Homo sapiens: one gene and its partner. The protein of the gene in region 2 interacts with the protein of the main gene of each other region in a biochemical or structural test. Each region holds a gene or a part of one and is shown on either strand. Other genes may lie near its edges.

Region 1 (3,500 bases), on a different chromosome or scaffold from region 2:
CATATGCATTTTGTCCAGATGTACCCGAGTCAAGGCCAGACTCTTCCCCCACCTCTGACCTCCCAAATCCCCAGGTGCCTCACTCCACTGGGACTTGAGGGCTCTTAATTCTAGGGACCCACAGTGGCCCTTACGCCTCTGCCTCTGGCCCCTGTGTCTGATGGGCACTGTCAGTGGACGAAATCCAAGGAGCAAAAGAAAGAAAACTCGAACTATGGTGGGTTGGGGAGGGAGGGGGAAGGGACCGTCTTGCAGTCAGCCACAGGAAGTTTGCATCTTTCGAAAACTGCACGTGAGAGGAGTCCGCTGCCAAGGCTTCTTGTCCTCATGTTCCTTTCTTTTCTCACGCAGACGCTAAACATGGTGACACCAACGCTGCGAGTAGAGGACTGCAGCATCGCACTGTTGCCCCGGAACCATGAGAAAAACCGGTGCATGGACATCCTGCCCCCAGACCGCTGCCTGCCCTTCCTCATCACCATCGATGGGGAGAGCAGCAACTACATCAATGCTGCCCTCATGGACGTGAGTGCCCCGCTTCCCGCACGGGTCCGAGGCTGGGGTGTTTGGGGAGACTGCAGAACAGGCTTGGGTCTTCCCCATTCTGCTCACCAGCCCTTTTGTTTTTTAAGACACAAACTTTTTTTTCCAACAAAAAATAGATTTCAGATTCCACGTATGTTTTTGTGTCGGGGCTGATATCCTTCGTTTCTCAAAGACCACCAGGCCAGGAGTATCCGTAAATGCAGCATGGCACAGTTGCCCTCTGAGAGCTGAGACTTTTAACCTGCTGGCTGGGGAACAGGGGACACCATGGCAGGAAAATGGGTTAATAGATTTGCAGCATTATTTTAGTTCATTTTCCTGTAATTTAGCCTGCAGTTAACATAGGGGAAAGTTCAACTCATTACTTCCTGCCAGTCTGTTTTCTTATTGCTATTCCGTTGATGCAAAGAGTGAATGGGTATGTTCTGTGCTAACACGGAAATTTTAATTCTGTTGGTGTCATATCATAAAAGGTACCTGAACTTTTTTGAAGCTCTTCAGAGCTGTAAAAAAAAAGTACATGTATTCTTTACGGCAGAAATAAGAACACTGTCACACATACAAATTGCTAGCAAACAAGTTTTAGAAAAAGCAGAACTTTTAATTATGTGTAATTTTAAAAGTAAAGTTAAATTTTCTCCATCAAGATAATTATGTATAGATTCGATATTGCCTCTCTACCAGAAATATTTTAAAAATTGATAAGAGATACTAATTAAGTTTTCTTGGTATCAAAGTAAGACTTTTATCACTATTATTCTGCAGAGAAGTTTATATTTAGTCTATGTTGGTGCTGACAATGGTGACAGAATTCAACAGCTGTTAAACATGTTCAGTGTTTTGTGCCACAAGCTTCCTTCTGCATGAAATAACCTAGCTTCTTCTCTTCCCATTTTCCTGAGTATATTTGGAGCATTCTTGTTTGTGTTTGCAGAGCTATAAACAGCCTTCAGCTTTTATAGTCACCCAGCATCCTTTGCCAAACACAGTGAAAGACTTTTGGAGACTGGTCCTGGATTATCACTGCACATCCGTAGTTATGCTAAATGATGTGGATCCTGCCCAGGTGAGACCCGGACTTCTTACAGTCAGAACTAGTGCCAGGGGGTCAAGTTTGTTTTTACACTGAGTTTGTTTGCACCCGAGAAGTGCAGGCCCTAGTGCCAGATCTCAAGTGCCAGTTGAAGTTGAGAACTGGGGATGCTGAACACAACGGTTAAAAATCAGGCGGAATTAGGGGTTAGAAAGTCAGTTGAAACCAGAAATACAGGCTGAAATCATAGATGGTTGAGGTGACAGGGCAAGACACGGCCAGAAGTTGAGCTGTTCCTAAAAGATGGAAATACTCACTGGAGGTTGACAAGGTCGCAGACCGAGTTGGAGCTCAGCAGGAACCTGAACATCGCAGAGCCAAAGCAGAATGAGCAAACCAGAGGACAGTGGAGAAGGGAAGATAGCGTTTGACCCAGCCCAGATCCCATTCCTGGAGTGACTGTGTGCTTCCTGGCACAGCTCACCGGGAGCCTACAGGTAGAGATCGTCATGCAGGGCAGGTAGAGATTGTCATGCAGGGTGACAGTGTCGGGGTGACAGCAGAGACAGGCAAGCAATTTTAAGGCACAGCAATTAGTTTTCTCAATGCTTTAGTAAAGATATTAAAAAGAAATAATACTGGGACTTGGAGATAAGAGAAGTTTGGAATGATAAATGGGGCTTTTGCATAGTTACTCTTAAACATTAAAGAGAAAGAATTGGACAGTGATGACTCAATGTTAGTAATGGAGTTAGACACATTTTCTTGAAGCAGGTTGTCAGGCAAGCATTAGCACAGTGGTCCTTTAGGAGATGAATTTATTGCTTTGGGATGTGCCTATACCAATCATAGACAACCACCATGACAGTAGGCATTATGGGAAGTTTGACCTTAGCGTGTTTTAAGAAAAAACTTGTTCTGGAAATGAATTAATTTCCTGTCCAGTAGACACAAATTCTTTTTCTTAAAAAAAAAAAAAAAAAAAGTCTGAAGCATTTCGGCATCCCAACTGGACATGATGGCAAGATTTTTCCTTCCTACAATCTGTTTTCTTGCCATCATCCAGCCATAAATGGCATGGACATTCAATTCAGTTCTATAAGGTTTTTAATTATGTCTGAGGCACTGCATTATATTGTCAAAGCTCTTGCCTGAAAGCTGGTTAATGAAATAGTAATGATAATCTTTGTTCTTATCCAGTCCTTTTGGCTTAAGAAGCTTAAATATTTTAAAACTCTTCCCCACTGATGCTCTGAGAAGGTTAGCTTACAGTCATTTATAAAGACAAGCAGACACCACGGCTTGTGAAGCTTCAAAGACCCAACTCAAAATAGAACCAAGGGTCCTGATTTTCTCACTTACAGTGGCACGGCCGAAATTTCACTAATTCTAGAGTCTTAAGTTGCAGACACTTATAGAATAAGGGACTTCTTCCTTATTTAGAATCATGATGGTTTTTTTCTTAATGTGAATCCTGAAATGTGGAGATATTTTTGTTCATATTAGTGAACAAGACATCAGTGATTCTAGTGCATTCTTTTTGAAAAACTGCATTGGAATTCTAAAGCCGCATTCTAAACCCGAACTATCTGGACTCAAACCAAGCCTTGGCTGGCTCATGGGTAGGAGAGACAAAAAGACTCCAGTTCTATTCAGCAGACAGAGCTGATTTTCAGAGTGAGAGAAAAGAGGCTCCTGGGATTCAGTCTTTTAGCGAACACTAAACTGAGCATTTGAATGTAAAGGCTTTGCAATTCTACAAGAATAGCACTCAACTATTTTAAGTATTTATAGGTCCGGTTCACGGACGTGTTATGCACCATTTAAGCCATTTTCTACATGGTTTACTTGGGCAGAGCATAGAATGCAATGTGCCAAGAGGCAAGTGCAACCCACGTCACTCATATTTCTTTGGTGTAAG
Region 2 (4,008 bases):
AGCCAGATGCAGGGACAGAATCAGGCCCATCCCCTGCCTTCCTGGGTTGCATTTGGGAAGGACCAGGGACTGAGCACCCAGCATTTGCAAAGCCAGAGGATGCTGGTTCTGGTGCGTGGTACTGGGGGCTGGGCCTGCGCAGCCTGAGTGGGCGGCAGCACGTGATCACCTGCAGCTGCAGAGCCGTGGTGAGCCAGGCAGCATCACCGGCTCAGCTGACCCTTCCTGGTACACAGGGCCTGGCCATCTTGTGCCCAACCCTGGTAAAGCACCATTTTGTTTCTGCCTCACCATTTGCTTCTCCTGTGTTTTGTGAGCTGTCTGAGATGTGCATCATTCTTCTGTATTTGGAGGGGGACATGGAGCCCAGTTAGGATACCTAGTGCCTAGGAAAAAGCCTACTCAATTTCCCTTGAAAATGTCTCCCTTGACCCCCACCGAATGCTTTTTTTCAGTCCTGATTGTCCTGACTGTGAGCATTCCATCCTGGCTTCTACACTGGGGTGCATTCCAGCCCTGTCGGTCATTATATTGCAAAGTGATGGATAGATGTACGCCCTTGTGAGAGCTTTAATTTAAATATTATCATGACTTCAAGAATCATACAGAACATTCAGGAAATGTTAACATATTGACTTTTCACAGAAACGTGAAAGGGGCTATATGTTTGGGATTACTCAAATTATCAGCAATTTCAATCAGCTTTTTTATGCGCCATTCAGAGAGCAAAATTAGAAGTGCTTGTGTTTGCATTCTACCATGTATTCAAGATAATTAAAAATTAGCCCGTGAAATCATAGAGATCTTTACAGTAGCAGCAAGGATTTGGAAGGAGCATTTCCCTCTAAGCAAATGAACTGGACTTTTCTGAGAGTAAATACGGAATCGGAATCCAGCTGCACATTTTATTAAAACTACGAGCATTTCATGTTCACCTCTCCGTGGCTGGCCACCTTCCGCAATAGTCACCCCGGCCATCCCTTATTAGCAACCGGCAGGAAAATAACTAAAAATAAGCAGCTGTTGAAATGATTATTTAAGCCTCTAAGAAATTCCTCCTGATGACTGTGCGTGACTGTGCGGTGGCTGCGCTCTCCCCGGTCCTGCCTCAGTTCGGCTGCACGTCTCTGCTGCTGCTTTAAGACTGCAGAGCGCCCCAGCGGCCAGAGGCAGGGGAGGGGTCCCTGCTCGCCTCCGCGCTCGGCTTCACTCGCCCGGCTCGCAGGCAGGGAAGGTTGGCAGAGGGATCCATGTGACTGAGGCCGGAGCACGGCAAAGATGAGCCTGCCCGCCCGCCTGCTGCCTGGATGCGGAGGGTGAGGGCTGGCGCACGGGAGGCCGCTGGCTGCGCATTCTGGGCGCCGAGTGCCCGGGATGAGCTCACGCCCGCGTCTGCGGCTCTCTCCACCTGCCGACCTGCCGGGGGCCCACTGAGCTGACGGCGCACCTGGGCTCCGGCCGCAGCGTGGGGCGCGGCGCCCGGGAGCAGGTGTGCAGGAGCGCAGCGCGCGGCGAGCGCAGCCCTCGCTCCGGAGCCCGGCCGCGCCGCGTGCCCGGGCGGCTAGGCAGCGGCGGCGGCGGCGGCGGGCGGCGGGCGGGCGGCGGCCCCCGGGCAGGTGCCGAGCGGCGAGCGGAGCCGGGCCGGGCGGAGCGCGGGGGGCGAGGCCGGCGCGTCGCTCGCGGGAGGCCGGGGAGCGGCAGGGGCATGTGGATACTGGCTCTCTCCTTGTTCCAGAGCTTCGCGAATGGTGAGCCTTTCGGTTTGTGATGAATTTCGTTTCCTTATCATTGACCGGGGGGGCGGGGGGGTGGGGGGTGGCATTGGATGCATGGGTAAAGTCTTCTTTCTTTTTCCGCTTCATCTGTGTTTAAAATTTCGTGCTTTTATTTATTTTTTAAATATCATATTTATTTTTTGGGGGAGAAGAGGTGGCAATGGAGAGGCCCGGGAGAAATTGCTCTGTAATCATTGGAAGGCGCTTACCTAGCCAAGTGACAGCTCAGAGCCTAACTCCAGTACTAGAGAGCTGCCTCATTCAGAATAAACCAGGTTTGGTGACAGAAGGAGAGACAGGAAGATTGCCACTTTGAATATTACAACCTGGAAAGGGATGTGACATTCCAAGTGCACGCAAGTGGAGGGGTCAATGAGGAACATCTCCCTTCAGATTCAATGCTTTTTGAGATTTTTCAAACACGTAATTTCATGCTAGTACAATGTATCTCCAGCACCAAGGAGGGCTTTAAGAATGTTCTGTCCTTCTATGCACCCCGTGCTGCTTCATGCTCCTCACAGTCGTTTATGTAAAAATATGCACTGATAAGCATTACATCATCTGAAATGTTGACAAATTAAAAAAAAAAAAACACCTGTATAGTTGTAAAAATGAAATCAGTGAATATTGTAAATAGCATACATTTCCTCATGCCCAGCCAATATTATATTTTGAAATGATTTCTTCCTGGGTATTTAGAAAGCTATTGCTCTTGACTGAGTCAGACCCAATTAGTAAGTGTGACTGCACCTTAGGCTGCCTGTCACCGCATAAATATGAACTTACATGTATGAATGGCTTCCTCTCTTGTGGGAACCAGAGGAAATTGTCATCATTTGACATCGCCTGGGAGTAGCTACGGCTTAAATTCCCATTTCAAATTTTGGAACACACATCTGCATAAAATGTATAACCTACTGACAGTTGAAATTAAACCATTAAGCAGAATCCCCTAGCCAGAAGAGAGGAGAGAGAGAGAGAGAAAGAGAGGAGGGAGAGAGAGCGAGACAGACACAGAGACAGAGAGAGAGAGAGAGAGAGAGAGAGAGAGGAGAAGAAGAGAAGGTAAAAGAAGAGAAGAGAGGAAATCTGGCCCTTGTGAGAAAATACGAGAAGCAAAGGGGAGGCTCTAAGATTTTCCTGGAAGACACACAGGGAAGCTCTGTGTGTTGGCTGCAAGGCAGTGCATTTTCTTTGCCTACCTAGACAGTGCCTAAAGAATCAGCATACCAACAGGCCAGAAGAAATGCATGAGCATTGTCAATTTTTTAAAAAAACGGTGACTAAGAAAAGGTAGAGTTGAAAGAAGGTACTATCAAAATGAACATGAAAATGATACTTTGCTCTCCAGTATAACCTAAAGCAAAGTGTTTGAAACTTTCATTTTGAGATTTCCTAGCAGGAAAGAATTGCAACAAGTTCTGACAAGACACCCATCTTTCCCAGAGGGCACCATACCTGTCCTGTGTCCTCCTGGGAATTTCCCTTCAGGGACAGATGTGCTTAGGGAACATGCGGAGATGTGTCGGGGAAGTCAGCCCTTTCTGCTCTTCTGCTAATGCGACCTCCTAAGAAATGTAGAGATGCCTACACATGTGTTCCAAAGACACAGAGCCTTGACACCCTGTTTCGCCTGTCAGGGAGTACCTTTCTGAACTCCTTGGAAAGGCCTGGGTTATAAGAAGAAACAAAATTTGCACCCCATTGGGAAGTGTGTGTTTCAGGATGATGAAAGAGGCTGTGCTGGTTGTCAGTCAGCCAGTATTTATTTACAGTTTTAGCATTTTGTATGACAAAATGGTATGGAAGAATTTATGATACTGATACAGACTATTAGCCTCTGATACAGAGATGCTATATGTGTGTGTGACTTTTTTTCTGAATCAGCATTTTATAACTAAAATAAACAATCATAGAAATAATTATATATGGTAATACAATTATATGAAACCTCAAATATTCTGCAATATGAAAAATATATGCAAAAATTATGTAGGTACTCATATAGTGAGTTCTGCAAGTATTATTTTCAAGACTTTTAAAATCAACTGATAATCACCATTATTGTAATAAATATAGGTAGATTCCACAATATTAGACATAAACAGCAAACACAAATGAATATTTTACATTGCTGTATTACGTATTCTGATCCAATCTAGCAGAAGGCTATGGAACTGTCTTGTATAAAAATGCCCCTCTCTTTATATGATCAAGGATGAAAACATTAAAA

What was found. Proteins that work in one complex are often made in the same cells at the same time.
Region 1: the proteins of DSCAM (region 2) and PTPRM interact in a biophysical measurement, tested with the Homo sapiens proteins (one large-scale study listed by IntAct).

The regions. Positions count from the first base shown.
Region 1 is NC_000018.10:8,378,816-8,382,315, forward strand, and holds part of PTPRM (receptor-type tyrosine-protein phosphatase mu isoform 1 precursor), read left to right. Parts: intron 1-351; coding exon 352-525; intron 526-1,480; coding exon 1,481-1,612; intron 1,613-3,500. UniProt on the Homo sapiens protein: Receptor protein-tyrosine phosphatase that mediates homotypic cell-cell interactions and plays a role in adipogenic differentiation via modulation of p120 catenin/CTNND1 phosphorylation.
Region 2 is NC_000021.9:40,844,359-40,848,366, reverse strand, and holds the start of DSCAM (cell adhesion molecule DSCAM isoform CHD2-42 precursor), read left to right. Parts: upstream 1-1,208; 5' UTR 1,209-1,705; coding exon 1,706-1,748; intron 1,749-4,008. UniProt on the Homo sapiens protein: Cell adhesion molecule that plays a role in neuronal self-avoidance. Promotes repulsion between specific neuronal processes of either the same cell or the same subtype of cells.